Linked DNA regions of Homo sapiens: region 1 is linked to region 2. The links come from fine-mapping of genetic effects on gene expression. A gene starts in region 2. The other region holds a variant in brackets. All regions are shown on one strand. Distances are from middle to middle.

Region 1 (8,327 bases), 69 kb before region 2:
TGATAATGCTCCTTCACCTGGGGCTGCTGCAGAACACCATTTCTAAGCAGTCCCTTCACCTTTAGCTCCGGGGAGGCCAGAATGAACAGGAAGAAAGGCAACGTTTGAAGTCCTTCTTCCTTTAATTCAGTTTGGTTCAGACTCTTTTACTCATTGTCTAACAAATCTGGGCATGATAAAAATAACCATCTCTCAAGTTTGTTAGGAGAGCTGAGCACATGACACACAGCAGAGCCTTCGTTAACACCAGCTACAGAGGAAAGAGACAGATAGGGCCCTGCCCTTACAGTCTAGAGGGCGAGATGCACCCCAGCCAGAAGCAAATCAAGAGGGCCATTTCAGAGAGATCCATGCTATTCAGGTGAAGTGGAGGCGGAGGTCAGCTTTGGCGGCTCTGGGGCCTGGGTATGCACTTTGGATTATTCCTCTGACCACTGCCCTTGTGTTGAGCTGGAGGGTGACCCAGAGACACTCTCTGCCTCACCCTCCACTCTCATCCTTCCACCCTCATTTCAATCAATCCACCAAGCAACAAGCATTTATCAAGTGAGTATGGCACTCCAGGCCCATGCTAGGCACTACGAGGGCTCAGACGCTTGAAGAAGCCATGTTTCTGCTTCCAGGGGCAGAGGGTCTGGCCGGGGAACAAGACTCACACTCCAAACAGGCAGGGAGTCATCCCCACAACATTCCATGGGAGTGTATGTGGCTGTAACGCTACCCGCGGCCTGAGCCACAGGTAATTAGAGGATGCAGGGATATTTAATAAGGTGCTACGTCAGCAGTATAGACGCGAAAGGCCAACGGGCCATGGGCAGGGAGAGAATGCAGCAATGGGGTGTAGTCAGGGAGGGCTGGGGAGGGGAGGAGGAAAGAGCTGTGGTCAGCTCCATGGTTAAGGAGGAGGCAGGGTAGATGTTACCCACAAAGGCTCAGGAATGGGATGCGAGGCTGAAACCCAGGCTCCACCTCTTCCAGAACTGTAGGTGGGTTATGTAACCTGCTTGAGAGGAGTTTTCTTCTCTGTGAAACTTACACAGGAAGGCCCACTCTCATAAGGGTGTTGTGGGGATTAAATGAGATAACCTATACAGTATCTAGTGCCGGGACTGGCACAAGACAAGCCCTTGATAAATGTGGGTTGCAAACATAATCAGAGAGTTCTGCGCGTTGTGAAGAATCACATCACCCTTTATCTCAAATCCTTAACACGTGAGCTATCATCACCACCATCACCACACCCACCATTATCAGTCTTCACCCTAAGAGATACACGGTGGTGGTTAAAACTCACAAGTCTGGAGTCAGCCATCTGGGTCCCAATGCAGGCACTGTCACTCATTAGCTCTGTCCCCTTGGGCATGAACTCTAACCTGTGTGGCTTTGTTTCCTCATCCATAAGATGGGGGTGCTCAAAGTCACCGCTGCGTTAAAATGGGCTGTGCTGACCACATGGCATTCAGGGTTCAATCTACATTGGCTGTTAGGATGAGTTAGGTTTTATACCCCGATTTTCATGATGGGGAAACTGAAGCAAAATAATTGTCCTGGCTTGCACAGCTAATAAACCTTGCACTGTATTCTATCACCTCCCTTCCTGGAGGAGCTGGGACTGCTTAAACCATCTTTTTTTTTTTTTTTTTTTTTTTGAGACAGAGTCTGGCTCTGTCACCCAGGCTGGAGTACAGTGGCGTGATCTAAGCTCACTGCAATCTCTACCTCCCAGGGTTCAAGTGATTTTCCTGCCTCAGCCTCCTGAGTAGCTGGGACTACAGGTGCCCGCCACCATGCCGGGCTAATTTTTGTACTTTTAGTAGAGGCGGGATTTCCCCATGTTTGTCAGTCTGGTCTCAAACTCCTGACCTCAAGTGATCCTCCTGCCTCGGCCTCCCAAAATTCTGGGATTACAGGTGTGAGCCACCACACCTGGCTTCCTCTCTCTTTTTAGAAAGTTAAATGGGAGAAGGTAGGAGACAGTAGCTGAATTGGATTTGGTTCTCAAAATCTGCTCTCTGAAGGAGGAGGCATTTATACCTGGAATTCCCAAGTTCTTCTTCTCGTAAACACTTCCCTTCCTCTTGTTCTCTACCCTCCGAACACCTGTCTCAAAATTCTGGCTTTTCCACCCTTAGATCTCCTTGTTTCCCTACTCTGTTTGGGCTGGCTTACCCAGAAGTTTTCTTGGCCTAGTTATTCCCATCCTAAAATTCTTTTATAGAAAAAAGAAGAGGAGGGAGGGCTGGAGGGGAGATTCCAGACGGTTCCTCCACCCCAAACCCTCCCTACCTTCAGACTAGGCCCCCACAAACCAGTGGCTCACCTCCCCACTGCCAAATCTTGGATTCTGTCTTCCCTCTGCCCTGCTGGGTTGGTGAGATCACACACCTGTGCCCTTTGGGTCCATCCCCTTCCTTCACCTCCATCTTGAGTCTCTATGCTTATCTGTTCCCACTCACTGACATGGGGTGAATCCAGGCTGCTAATCCCCTCTGTGTGCTGCCTGTTGGGTTTAAGATTTCAGTTCTGAGAACCAAATCATGGATTAGAGTAGGTAAAGCCAACGGACAACCTGAGGGCCAAATTCAGCCTGAAGATATGTTTGTTGATCTACTACAGTGCTATATTTTAAAAACGGACTTAGCACACCTTTGGGGACAGGCACTGTCTGGATGCACTTTGTCCCCATTGCTTTCTAATGTGTCACTCCTGCCTCTTGGTTAAGAGCAGAGGGCTCTGGAGCCAGACTCACTGGCTTTGAATCCAGGCTCTGTCATTTTCTAGCTGTGTGACCTTGGACAAGATATGTAAACTCTATGTGGCTCAGTTGTCACATTTGCAAAACAGGAAAAATAAGAACACATATACTGAGCACTCACTATGCACCAGCAACTGTTCCAAGCAGTTAATGTATTTATATATTTACTCAGCTGGCCTTCACAACAGCCCTTTCAGGCAGGTACCATTCAGACCTGCCCCACAGTGCTCCTTGAAGCTTACATGAGATAATGCATGAAACAGCACATGAGTACACAGTGAGTGCTTGATAAATGTGAGTGATTCGTTTTTCATTTATTTATTTATTTATCTTTTGAGATGGAGTTTCACTCTTGTTGCCCAGGCTGGAGAGCATTGGCACGGTCTAGGCTCACTGCAACCTCTGCCTCCCGGGTTCAAGCGATTCTCCTGCCTCAGCCTCCCAAGTAGCTGGGACCACAGGCGCCTGCCACCATGCCCGGCTAATTTTTTCTATTTTTAGTAGAGATGGGGTTTCACCATGTTGGCCAGGCTGGTCTCAAACTCCTGACCTCATGTGATCCACCTACTTCAGCCTCCCAAAGTGCTGGGATTACAGGCGTGAGCCACCGCACCCAGTGATTTATTTTTCACACTGCTGCCCAAATGAGGCCCCCAACGTAGAGAATGTTAAAATTAAAAGAAACCCAACAAAACAACTCCCTTTCTTTACCAATGAGGAAACTGAGGGACAGAGATAAAAGACTTGCCTGGAGCCACCCAAGGACCCAGGGGACCTGGGGACCAACTCCAGCCCTGCATCACATAATGCCAGGAGATCAAATCAGCTTGGTGCTGGGCTTGGCTCCATTTGAAATTCAATAAGCATCTGAACAGCCTCCAAGAAATAGGTATTGATAGCATTTTCCCAGGCTAACTAACCCTATTATACCGAATGAGACTGATCATTGGGTAGGAACCAAGATGGAGAACTATGAAGCTCCCATTCATGGAGAGACGAGGTTGGGAGGTGGGCTCTTCATTTTTCTCATTACCTACTTGGAAGGTAATTTCCTAAAAGCCCCACACCACAGTAGAATGAAGACCCTGGAATATCTTTTTGCTCCTCACCCTGCTCAACCCCAGCTTCATCCTCATTCCTGAATTATGAGTTAGGCTATGGAAGCTCTGTGCCCTAAAGAAAAAGCCAACAGAACCAGAGAGGACTCCCAGTTCCATCCTTCCTAGCTGTGTAATCTCAGTCCATTCCTTCCCCCAGGTCTGAGCCTCAGTTTTCCTGCAGGTATAGAGCAGACAAGAAAACCTGCTTCCCAGGTTCTTGCATTCATTCATGCACGGA[C/G]AAGACTCAACACAGCACCTGGCACACAACCCCAGGCAGGCCTGCAGCCCTACTCCTTTCTGTATTTAGGACTCTGGGGACACTCAACTCCCAGCCTTATTCCTTCCAGCCTCATGAGCTGGGTTCCCAAGGGCTCTTCCCAGGTGCTGGGCTGTCTAGAAGCCTCATCAGCAGTAACTGCAGAGGCAGCAGCTCACCCTGTCCTGGAATTTGGCCATTCCAGAATCTTCTGCTCCTTGAGCTCTGACCCTTACCACACAGCTTGAGGAGCTGGTCCTTCTAGAAATGGAATTGACCGTGAAGACTTTTCTGAGATCCTGTCTGACTTGGGGCCCCTCCCAAGACTGCATGGTTTAGACAGAGCACTGGAAGAAGAATGATGAGATCTGGGTTTGAAGCCTGACGATGCCCTTGGGCAAGGCACTCCTGTTGCTGGACCTTAACCCTTTCTCTTGGTCTTTCCCACCTGCAAAACAGAGGAAGCTAGAATTTAACACCCCTAAGGCACCCTCTGCAGCTTTAGTCTAATACCTGGCCAACCTGTCCCAAAGGTCAGGGCAGCTTCCACTTAAGGCCAGTGAAGCACTAGGCACAGGACCATATGCTCCATGTAAAATAGATCGCTTCCTTTATTCTAACAATATTTCTGTGAGGCAGGTACAATCACCCCAATTTCACCAACAGGAAACTGAGGCTTAATAGTAATAGCAATAATAATAATAAAAGCAAAATTTCATTGAGTATTTGCAAAATGCCAGGCACTATCCAATGTCCCTTACATAGACCCTATTTCACCAAAAGATGCACATTTTTAAACACATTCAGCATTTTCTGAAACTCTGATGTATGCTACTACTACTGACATCTTACAACTGATATCACCTAGGCTGCAGTCCTGATGGAGCTGTCACTGCCTGTGTGTGCACATATATCAAAGGCATCAGCACTGCCACTGGTGGAACGGGTGCTACAGGCTTGGGATAAAAATCCCACAGACAAGACATTGAGGAATTCAAAAATTCCTCAATAAAGTTGTAAGCACTTTTAACCCCTAGGAACCAAATGGTTGTGGAAAGGTGTGGAGAAGGTATGCAACAGACCTGTTTAGCAACATTCCCAAAGCAGGACTCTTAAGCTGGCTACCTCTACAGAATTGCCAAGCTTTGAGTCCCTTTTTGTGGGTCTTTATAACAAGGCTGTATGACTAACACTCTTAAGGGCACAAAGGACAATATTAAAAGCACAGACATTAATAACTCAGCTAAAAAGCTACTCCGAAGAACTGGATTCTGAATGGGAAGACACTGTAGGAATACCAGAGTTTTATTTTTCTCATATATTCCTTTGTGGGTTTTTTACACATACAAGTGATATGTGAGTTAAAAAAGAAAAAACAAAAAAAACTAACCTTGAAAAATGTATTTCAACAAATATAAAATAAGCATTCTAATTACATAAAAACATTGGGACATAGTTTAATTGGCACAATTTCCCTTTCTTATGGCACATACAATAATGGTGCTTCTTAAAATCAATATTATCTTTATTTATAAAAACCCCAAGCTAGAAACAATCCATATGTCCATCAATAGGTAAATGGATAGACAACTGTGGTACAGCCAAACAACAGAATACTACTCAGCAATAAAAAGGAATAAACTATTAAAATATGCAGTAATGAAGATTAATTTCAGACACATATTAGGTAAAAAACTCTATAGTGTATAGGCCAGACGTGGTGGCTCACGCCTCTAATCCCAGCACTTGGGGACGTTGAGGTGGGTGGATCACCTGAGCTCAGGAGTGCAACACTAGCCCGGGCAACATGGTGGAACCCTGTCTCTCCAATACAAAAAAATTAGCCAGACATGGTGGCGCGTACCTGTAGTCCCAGCTACTTGGGAGGTGGAGGTGAGAGGATCCTTGGAGCTGAGGAAGTAGAGGTTGCAGTGAACCCAGATCGTGCCACTGCACTCCAGCCTGGGTGACAGAGTGAGAGTCTGTCTCGAACACACACACACACACACACACACACACACACACACACCCCACCACCACCAACAACAACAAAAACCATATATTGTGTGATTCCATTTATATGAAATTCTAGAAAAAACAAATTAACTACAGGGGCAGAAAGCAGGTCAGTGGTTGCCTGGGGAGGAGGGTTAGAGGGAGAGGATTACAGAGGGGCACAAGAAAAGTTTTGGAGATAAGGTTTGTTATACTGATTATGATGAGGAGTTCCTACATGTGTACGTATACATGTATGTATGTGTACATATATATATATATATGCGTGTCAAAGCTCATAAAATTGTTTAAACACATACCATTTAGTAGACTTCAAAAATTCCTCAATAAAGTTGTAAGAAAAAAGAAAATCGTCAATTCAATGCAACATATTAGCTTATTTAAAACAATCTTATACACAGTATTATTAGCTCCATTTTATAGATGTAGAAACTGAGGCACAGAGAGGTTAACTGGTTCATCCAAGGACACTCAGCTAGTTGAGAGGCAAATCCAACTGGTATCAATCCTCAGCTATACTACTGAGTGGCTGTGGGCACCTTCCCAGCCCCTGGGCTGCTGTTTTCCCATCCCTACCATGAGATGACAAAGTGATGGCTACAGGACCTTTCAGCACTGAGTTTCCATGACTGTGTCCCAAGGATGTGTTTGGGGTCACGCAGCCAGAGGAGTGGATCCTTCTGGACACTCAGGTTCCCTGACACTCACCGAGCTCTCCTTGCCCATCCTCATTCATTCTCTGAACACACCTCCTGACATCTCCTTATTGTATACAATAAGTCATCCCTCCAGGACCACTGTATGAAGCCTTTTCTAAACTAAGCTGTGCATTGCCTACCAAAGGTGTCCTATCAGGGCCCCAGGGAGACATGACACTGTTTCCCCAGGTCACCCACCCAGATAGACAGGGCCTTCCTGAGACCTGTTCCGGATGCTGCAGCTGACATGTCTGGAAAACCACAAGCCAGCATGGCCCACCACATGCAAGGGTCCCAAGTCTGTGGATTCCCAAGTGTTTGCACACTCAGATTCCCAAGTGAACACATCACAGTGAGCAGGCTGCTCTAGCCAGAAGCTCGCCTTGTCTGCAACTCGACTGCTATTTCTTTGGTTTTTAGGACCACAGAGGCCTACAGTAACTGATTACAAAGGAGCTCTGCACAACAGTGGAAAAGAAACAGTTTTCGCCTCTGAAAAGTATGACTTGCTTTATGGGTTTTTCTCCCATCATTTCTTTTTAAAGAAGAAAATAAATAGAATGTTATTCCCTGAAGGGAAGCCCTACCTGCAAGTCAACATGAAACACCGAAGTGTTCTGAGCTGAAGGCGGCTGGAATAAAGTCAGCAGTGAAACAAATAAGCAATTAAAACAGCTATTTTGGGAAGCCCTAGAAAGAGGCAGATACAATATGAATTATTCATTCATACTGCGAGGATGACTTCTGGGCATTGTCCTCTTTGCCTTTGCTCTTCTCTTGTTCATTCAGCCTCTCAAGCACAGAAAGGGAACACAATACCCTGGCATGCACGCACGTGCATGCGTGCGCGCGCGCACACACACACACACACACACACACACACACACACACACACACACAGAAGGCAGGTTGCCACTCCAGATGGTGAACCACACGGAAAAGAAACCCACAGGTTGGCAGACGCTTTGAGCTCCAGTGCTGGGGAGAATGTATGAATTTCCAGTTGGCCCAAAAAGTGTGTGTGTGTGTGTGTGTGTGTGTGTGTAAGAGAGAAAGAGGAAGAAAAAGACAGTATCTTAATATCTTATTAACAGTTGTAACCTCAGCATCTTATGAGTGGGCACCAAATGAATGTTCACTGAATGAATAAATGAACTCACAAAAGAACAAAGAAAGAAAGATCTCATTGGAATTCCCAGCAGGGTTCACAGCTAGGCCCTCTACTTTCCAAATTTTGCTTGTCCCAACAAAGAGAAACTTGTGATTGAAGAAACATTTAAGGTCCTCAAGGTGCTTTTGGATTCTTGACCTTATTTGATACTCAAATAACCGTCACAACAGTGGCATCATGACCATCATGATTATTTCCCTGTTTTACAGATGACACTCAGAGACTTCCCACAACTGACAGGGCTCCCAGGGCCCTAGGTAGGGCCAGGATTATTGGATATGAGCCACCTGAGCCTTGGCCCACTGCTCCATCTCCTCCACCAGGAACCGTC
Region 2 (8,327 bases):
ATTCTTCCTCCGAGAACAATCGGTGCATTTGTTTTGCATACCACGAAGTGAAATACACAGGACGCTGGCCCCTTCGCTAGAGCTCACAAAAGCACCCAGAGTTACTCCGCAAAAGGAGCACGGCTCCAAGGTGCTGTTCAGACCTGATCCACAGCACCTGATTCCCGAAGGGCCTGTCACCTTCCCAGGCTGGCCTTGACTCAGGAAAAGCCTGTGGTGCTGCTGGAGCCTTTGGCCCAGTGGGCAGGACCCAAGCTGCCCACTGGACCCTCTCCGGTTGTTGGGACAACCATCCTCAGGAATTTCGGCCTCCCAGTCTTCCCCTGGGTGAGAAGGGGAGAGAGTTGGCAAGGCTGGCTGCTTGGCTGCTCTTCCAACCCCCTGGTGAAAGGGGAAGCTGAAAACTGGATTCCCTACCCCCAGCAGCTCCTGGCCGGCCAGCACACAAAACAGCTCAGCCCCAGAGGGAGGAATGTGCCAAGACATTCTTTAGGGTTGGTAACCAGAGACGCTATTTTGTCCTTGGTGGCTAAGAAATCACTTTTCTGACTGAAGGACCATTTGACTTACTTCTTTTAAATTCAGGGGAATGGGTGGGCATCTCCATGATTCAGGTAAGGAAAAATCCAAGGCAAATAAACACACACACACACACACACACACACACACACACACGGAGTAGAAATTTTTAGTGCAATTTTTTGTCTCACAGCATTAATTAATTGCAGGGATATAACTACCTTGGCAGAATTTTTTCTCCCCAACCCACCACCCCCCGGAATAAGTTTGGCTCTTTTCAGCTTTGTTAAATTTCTTCTTCCTTTTTCTCATAGCCCATCCCTGTTCCCCCTTCTCCTCTCATGGAGTCTGGAGAGGTAAGAGCGGCAGAAGGGTTTGAAATAATATTTAAGAGCTGGCAGGCCCTTGAAGACCATCTAACCAACCCACTTCTCAAGCACTCAAACCTCAGAGAGGTCAAGTGATTTGCCCAAGGCCACACAGACAGAACTAAAAGGCAAAAATGGGGTATGCCGGAGGGAAATTCCAGAAAACCACAAGTGGCTATCCTCCAATTAGCACTTTTCCAAAACATACAAAGCTGGACCACAATAGTGACCCCCAGAGTTGACATGAGACCCCCTCAGGACCCCAAGTTCAGGGGCCCAATACCACCCCAGTCCAGGTGGGATGACAAGGAGGTACAGAGATGAAGTTTATAAACCAGTGACCCAAGGCCAAGCGTGGTGGCTCACGCCTGTAATCCTAGCACTTTGGGAGGCTGAGGTGGGCGGATTGCCTGAGCTCAGGAGTTCAAGACTAGCCTGGGCAACACAGTGAAACCCCATCTCTACTAAAATACAAAAAATTGGCTGGATGTGGTGGCGTGCACCTGTAGTCCCAGCTACTCGGGAGGTTGAGGCAGGAGAATCGCTTGAACCCAGGAGGCAGACTTGCAGTGAGCCAAGATCGCACCACTGGACTCCAGCCTGGGCGACAGAGCGAGACTCTGTCTCCAAAAAACAAAAACAAATAAACAAAAAAACCAAAAGCAAACAAAAAAACCAATGACACAAGATGAAGAAGGTGAGCTGCTCACCTAAGTGCCACTATGTTTCTGCCGCCTCTCCATGGCTTGCCAATCTGCTTAAAAACAAAGGCTGGGCAGGTGAGGTGCTGTGGCCTTAGGCTGGCCACAGTACCTAGCTAAAATATACTAACCCTGGTTTTTTGTTTTTTTTGTTTGCCTATCTTTTTTGTTTCCCCTGTATGACAATAGATATAACTAGTTTCCCATTTGTGAAAATGGTACACATATTTTTAAAGTGAGTTGATCTAAAGTCAAGGAGTAAGTAAGCAATAGCACAGGTGGATATAGCAAAAAAAAATCATGGAGGTGGTCCATGTAACACTAAAATTTGGGAGATTGTGCTCCAGCCAATCAGTTCTTCATAGAAGCTACTTACTTACCCTTTTCCAAGGGTAAAGAATTACTGTTGAGAGGGGCCTCCTATTGCTGTATTAGAAGTCCCCAGATGCATGATTATCAGTGTTGGCAGGGGCGGTCCTTTCCCTCCAACAGGACGTCCACCTGCTAACAGCACACAGGCCTCCGTAAACTACAGGGACCTAAATTGGGGCAGGTCACATATGTTTGAACTTGTGTCTGTTCTGAGAAAAGGACAAGAGAAAAGGTGCTGCCAAGTTCACCAACACAGTAGCAGAGCTGGCAACTGACCCGAGTAAGGGTGGGGAAGCAGTGTGTCAGGGTGACAAGTTTGCAGGTTAGAACTTCAGAGCTGGTGAAGAACTGGTACGCAGAATGGCAGAAAAATCAAAATACTTGAGCAAATCACACCTCTGGGCTTCAAATTTTCTCTTATGTTTCAAATGGGAGTTGGGCGCTGATGTACGTCCCTTCCAAGTTTTAAGCATCCCAATATTCCCTTCCAAGCAAACTTTTTAAATTCAGGGAAATGGTGGGCTCCCCCATCTGACAAACAGGGAAACTGAGGCTCAGAGGTTGAAGCAGCTTGCCTAAGAGATGCTCTCTAGCACTAAATATTTACCTTCCAGATTACATTCATGAGACATTCAGCATGGTGCTGAGTGTAGAGGAGGCATCCAGGAAGCGCTGAATGAACGAATGAATGAATGAATGAAAGTAAGTGCTCCCAGAAACTACCGAGAATCTCAACTCTCATTTTCTTTCCGCTTATATTCTTTTTTTGACCCACATCTTGCTACATACACTTCTGGGACACCTCCACCCCCACCACACAAGATGAAGAGTCCAAGAAATTCACCTTGGTTGCTTTACAGGGACCTGACCCCCAAGGTCACAGACAAGGTTTAAAGTCCGCATTCCCCAAGACACTCTGCCCACAGACCGTGTCAACAACATCGTGGTCCGGGGACTCTAGGACATACATGGAGAGGGTGAATGTATGTGTGTGTGTGCAGCATGTGAGCAAAGAAATGCCAAACAACCAGGAGAAAGTCTGGAGAGGTAAGAGCCACACCGAGCTATCTCAGGCTCCATCTGCCTCTGCACATTATCTCAACCTACAGCGGCCTGGTACCCACCAAGGTCAGGTCCCGCTGGTGCAGGGCTGAGGAGCCTCGCCGCCCCCTTCCCCGATCAGGGAAGAAAGAGAGGAGAAAGAGGCGAGGGGCAAGGCTTTCCGGGAGGCCTCTCACCTCCATCTCCATCCTAACAGCTTCCAAGTTGCTGCCAGATTCCTGGATAACCAGTCTCCCTCATCTGCCCTCCCCCGCTTCTTCACTTCCTCCCCACCCTCGGGTTCCAGGGCCCCCTGGCTGCCCCTGTGCTGTTCTCAGCAGCTTCCAAGGCACCTGTCAAAAAGCACACCTCAGGTTGCCTTCCTCTGCGCCGAGTGCCCTCTCTCCAGTGGTCTCCCACGGAATCCTGGGGTCTTGACCACCCCCTCTAACCGGACACTTCCCCATCCCCATCCGCCCACCCCCCACGCTGGGTGGAAGCCTCCCCGGGAAGACCCGGCTTCACCCGGCTAGGTCGCTCCCCCAACCCCCGCCCCCGCCCGACCTCTCTTCCTAAAGGGGGCGGGCGGGGCTAGAGCTTAAGGTCAAAACTCCGGGCAGGTGCCGGCTGGGGCCTAAGTCCTCCAACTGGGGATGGCGGTGGGGCAGCCTGGGCCAGCTCCCCGGCAGGCGCCTCCTCTCGGTGGCCCACTGAGGCGGGAGCAGCGCTCCAGAAGGTTGGGGGGAGCAGGGGGTGGCGAACTGAAGAGAGCTCAAGAGGCACGCAGAGCTCCCCTGCCCCCTCCCAGTCCCGGCCGGCGGCTCCAGGGGCAGGTGGGGGCCCAGGCGGGGGTGTGGGGGCACGGAGGAGGGTTCCAGGGTCCTACCTGTCCCGCGGGTCGATCCAGCTGGTGGTGCGGTTCGTGTGGTCTATGTAGTAGACCTTGCCGTCGAAGTCGCGCGCCTCCTCCCAGCCCTCCGGCAGGGGCAGCTCCGGCCGGGGCATCTTCCCAAGCGCTGCCGGCGCTCCCCCATGCAGCTCCCGGCCGCAGCGGGGGCTCAGCGGCTCCAGCCGGCCGCTCTTAGCCCGGGCGGCCGCCGAGGCACCATGATCCGGGGGGTGGCGCCCGCAGATGGGGGGCCCTAGTAGGGGCCGGCCGGGGTGGCGCCGCTGTCCATGCGGCCCTGCAGCCCCGACCCGGCGCCGCCCGCTCCTCCCGCCGCCGGCCTCTCACGCTGCCATGTGCGTCCGCAGCGGCGCGGTGCGAGCCCGGGTGCGCGCCCAGCCGGCCGGGCAGAGCGAGCCGAGCGCCGCCGCCGCCGCCGTCTGCCCTCCTCCGCCGCGCGGCGCGCTGCGCCCTCCACGCCGCCGCTGCCGCTGCCGCCTCCCTCCTCCCTGCAGCCGGGTGCCGTCCCTCCTCTCCGCTCCACCGCTCTGAGCTCGCCGGGTTTGTGACTTCTGCCTCCGCCAGGTGCGGCTCGGGCGGTGCAGGTAACCGCGCTGCCCCGGAAACGGGAGGCGGAGCGCCGGGCGCCTGGGTTCCCGGGTCCCCTCCCCGCGCGCAGCGCCTCGAGGGCGGGTCCTAGGGCCCGAGACGCGCCCCCTCGTGGGACAGTCCCAGCCGCCGGCCACCCTTACGCTGCCCCTGCCAGGGGAAGGAGAGACCGCCCCTCACCTGCGTCCCAGACCTAGGGGGCTGGGCCAAAAACCGCTCTGCCTGTACTTAAAACGCTCCTGTCTCTCTCCACCCGGAGTAGCCAGGCTCTCGGCACAGGTGGCCCCAAATCTTAAAAACTCCCTGCTTTTCTGTGGTGTAGAATCAGGAGTCAGGCAAGAAGTGGTTAAATGGAAACATTCTTGCGAATTGGGAAACATAAGTTTTCCAGGATCTCTGGTCCCTTCCCCCAACACAGGCACCATCTGTCTCCTTCTATTCAACTCTCCCTACGACGTTTCGCCCACCCTCCACCCTTCCCCACCATTTGGAAATGTAGCTGGCTCCCCTCAGGGTCCCTAAAATTAGGAGCGCTGTGGATCCGCTTTCCTGGGAGGACTTCCAGAGGGTGTCAGGGAAAACACTTTGTAAAAGTAATAGTAATGCCATTGTTATTGTTAGCTAAATTGAGGACTTACTTGTGACAGGCTGTGGCTAGCAGCTTCACAGGCTTTCTTTCCTGTGATACTTTGAGGTAGGTGTGTTATGGATTTGGGAGAAGTGGGGCTATGAAAAAGAAGAAAGTAAGCAAAGCAAAATTCCATCTTGAAAAATGTTCAAGAGAATAAAACAATCAGAGACACAATGTTTCTTGAGAAATTAAAAATGTAGAATTAGTGGGTGCGGTGGCTCACGCCTGTAATCCCAGCACTTTGGGAGGGTGAGGCAGACAGATTACCTGAGGTCAGGATTTCAGACCAGCCTGGCCAACATAGTGAACCCCATCTCTACTAAAAAATAATAATAATAAATTAGCTGGGCGTGGTGGTGCACGCCCGTAGTCCCAGCTACTCGGGAGGCTGAGGCATGAGAATCACTTCAACCTGGGAGGTGGAGGTTGCAGTGAGCCAAGATCGCACCACTGCACTCCAGCCTGGGCAACAAAGCGAGACTCTGTCTCAAATAAATAAATAAATAAATTTAAAATGTAGCATTAAATACAAAAAGCAAGCTAGCATGATTGAGTGAATGATCAACTGGCTGTTCACTTCCCCATCTCCTCTTACATCTGTGTACTGAGTGGGAATTTAACCCTTTTTTGCCCTCGGCATATGGCAGGAAGCTGGACTGGTCGAATGAAGCCCAGTTGGGTGTCTTCTCTTGCCTGAGCCCCACGGTCTTCCAGAAGAACCAGCACCCTGTGCTGTATGGACCAGGGTGTTGCTGAGCCAGAGAGGGAATCATGTTTGTGGTCTCATCTCCTCTTGACAGAAAAGACCCACCAGAGTGAGCCTCGCCTCCAAATGCCTTCTTCATAGTTAATTCCTTCCCTGAGGCCAGGCCTCGGGGCTCAGTGCTTGGCCCTCCTTCATTCCATAAATACCAGGCACCAGAGTCCAGGGACACCAGCCTCAGACTGGCCCTCAACACCCAAAAGTTGGAATTCCCCATTCCTTTATGGGGGAATTCCCACAGCCCTCTACACTTCCTCTGTTTGGGTCAAGCCTTTACTACATAAAAACCCACTATTGATTAGAGCAGTAGCCCCAAAGCAAAGCCAACCTGGTGCTAGGTTCTTTGAATACATGATCTCAATCTTCATAACAACCCTCTGGCATAGGAAAGTCTATTTATTATACCCATTTTACAGATGAGGCTCCAAGATGCTTTGTTGTTGGCCTGGGATACAGAGCTCATAAGACAGACTAGGTCTGACTCTAGTGCAGTGTTCTCAGTTATTAACCTATACTTTCTTTTTTTCTTTTTTTGAGATGGAGTCTCCCCCCATCCCCCAGGCTGGAGTGCAGTGGCATGATCTCGGCTCACTACAACCTCTGCCTCCCAGATTCAAGCAATTCTCCTGCCTCAGCTTCCAGAGTAGCTGGGATTACAGGCCTGCGCCACCACGCCCAGCTAATTTTTGTATTTTTCAGTAGAGCTGGAGTTTCACCATATTGGCCAGGCTGGTCTCGAACTCCTGACCTCAGGTGATCCGCCCACCTCAGCCTCCCAAAGTGCTGGGCTTACAGACATGAGCCACCTTGCCTGGCTGACTTTCTTTCTTTCTTTCTTTTTATTTTTGAGACGGAGTCTCGCTCTGTCACCCAGATTGGAGACTTTCTTTCTTTTTTAAATCACTCTGCAGCCTCAGAACTTCCCCATGGTTGGGATGTGGAACATGACTGATACTGACAAATGTTCATCTCTGTTGATGTTTGCTTCATAGTTTTTTGGTTGAGAAGCAAGAGCTCTAGAATCAGGCTGTTTGGGTCCCAAGCCCACCCGGTTTTCTAGCTGTGTGACCTTGGGCAGCTTGCTTCACTGAAGTCTCAGTCTTTGATTTGAAAAAAAATCACATAACAATATGGACTCCTTTGGGCTTGTGGTTAGGGCAAAGCAGGAGGAGAAATGTGAGGGCTTGGCACTCAGCAGCACGCCTTCATCTCAGGGGCTGTGGTGCGGTGCATTCGGAGCACCGTGCCTGGCAGCAGACACACCTCTATGAAATGTGGACCATTTGAAGTATTTTCTGTTCAAAACACAAATCCACGTCCTTTCCCCTTCTGAAAATTATGCCTGCTTGCTTGCAACAGTCCTCCTAATTGCTGATTTTTTTTTTTTTGGCCTTATTTTTCAACCAAGCCTTTTTACTGGTTGGCATTGATTGTGAAGAGAAAACACCTTTTAGACTGCCAAGTCCCACTTTCGTTTTAGTCCAGCCACCCAAACCCTGGCATTTTCCAAATGGCTTGCTTCTTTGGACCTTTTGACCTGGCCTGGGAAGCAAGAAAGAGAGACCAGAGCAGGAATTGACTCCTGAATTAAGGCCTAGGTCTGTTCGCTCTTTTTACCTCCCATCCACCCCCAACGAAAGAATCCCAGGTTATCTCGCAGAAGCGGCAAGCAGGGTGAGGTAATAAAACAGATGACTGCCTGCCCCATGTGATGGCGCGTGAATCATCCCGGACATTCTGCGAGGCTGAGGGCAAACGTGAAAGAGATTAAAGGTAAAACCGGCTCAGCCACATGATAGGCTGAATTGGACGTTACTCTACAGGTGACTGAACTGCAGGAATCCGAACTGAAGACAAGAAGCCCAGCCCTCTCCTGGCCACCCTCCTGGGGCTGCGTCTGGCTGCCCGCGTGTGGAGTTGAAGGAGACAGGCTTGGGCAGTGTTGGGCAGTGCAGAAGTGACCACAGGCCAAGCCTTTCTAATGACAAAGGCCACATCCCGGTGGCCCAGAGGAATCACCTGAGCCTGAGACAGGCTGTCTTGTTTTTAAAAACGATGCGCACTTGAACCCTTTTCTCCACTGCAACTGCAGGGAAGAAAGGCCGTTATCCACACGTGTTTTAGAGTGTTTCAGAGAGCCAGAGTCACATATTCCATGAAGATGGTAAAGAGGAGAAATTAAATATAAAACAAAGGAACAGATATGTTAGCAAGTCCAGTTTCCTGTTCGCATCTGCATTCTTCAGGGGAAACTGAGGCTTTGAGAACCTCTGCTGAGATTTTGCTTCCTGCTCCATGACTCTACCTCCCTACCTCATGCCGTCCCTCCCACACATCCTGGGGAATGCACAGTTATGTTCTATGATGGAGCCAATAATGTCCCCTTTCTTGAGTCATGCATTATTTGAGGTTCATAAATGTACTGTGGACTCTTTTT

Alleles and levels. Alleles are on the strand shown, and positions count from the first base shown. SD is a standard deviation of normalised expression in the study named.
As copies of C replace G in region 1, the expression in unexposed skin of the gene that starts at base 4,514 in region 2 goes up (small effect, 0.30 SD a copy in GTEx).

Evidence for each region.
Region 1: its variant is fine-mapped to the expression of WWC1 in unexposed skin (GTEx, PIP above 0.99). The same link has a PIP of 0.9 or more in esophagus mucosa and sun-exposed skin.

The regions. Positions count from the first base shown.
Region 1 is chr5:168,356,847-168,365,173 of GRCh38, reverse strand. All of the region lies in intron 1 of WWC1 (WW and C2 domain containing 1), which reads right to left. Among named protein-coding and RNA genes, the nearest start is that of WWC1, 69 kb to the right of the region's middle. RefSeq lists an enhancer at 1-55. The variant C/G (reference allele first, on the strand shown) is at 4,094.
Region 2 is chr5:168,287,832-168,296,158 of GRCh38, reverse strand. WWC1 (WW and C2 domain containing 1) reads right to left here and starts at 4,514. Exons shown (of 23, transcript NM_015238.3): 1 at 3,888-4,514. The coding sequence starts at 4,006. RefSeq lists silencers at 3,702-4,121, 4,222-4,741 and an enhancer at 5,886-5,965.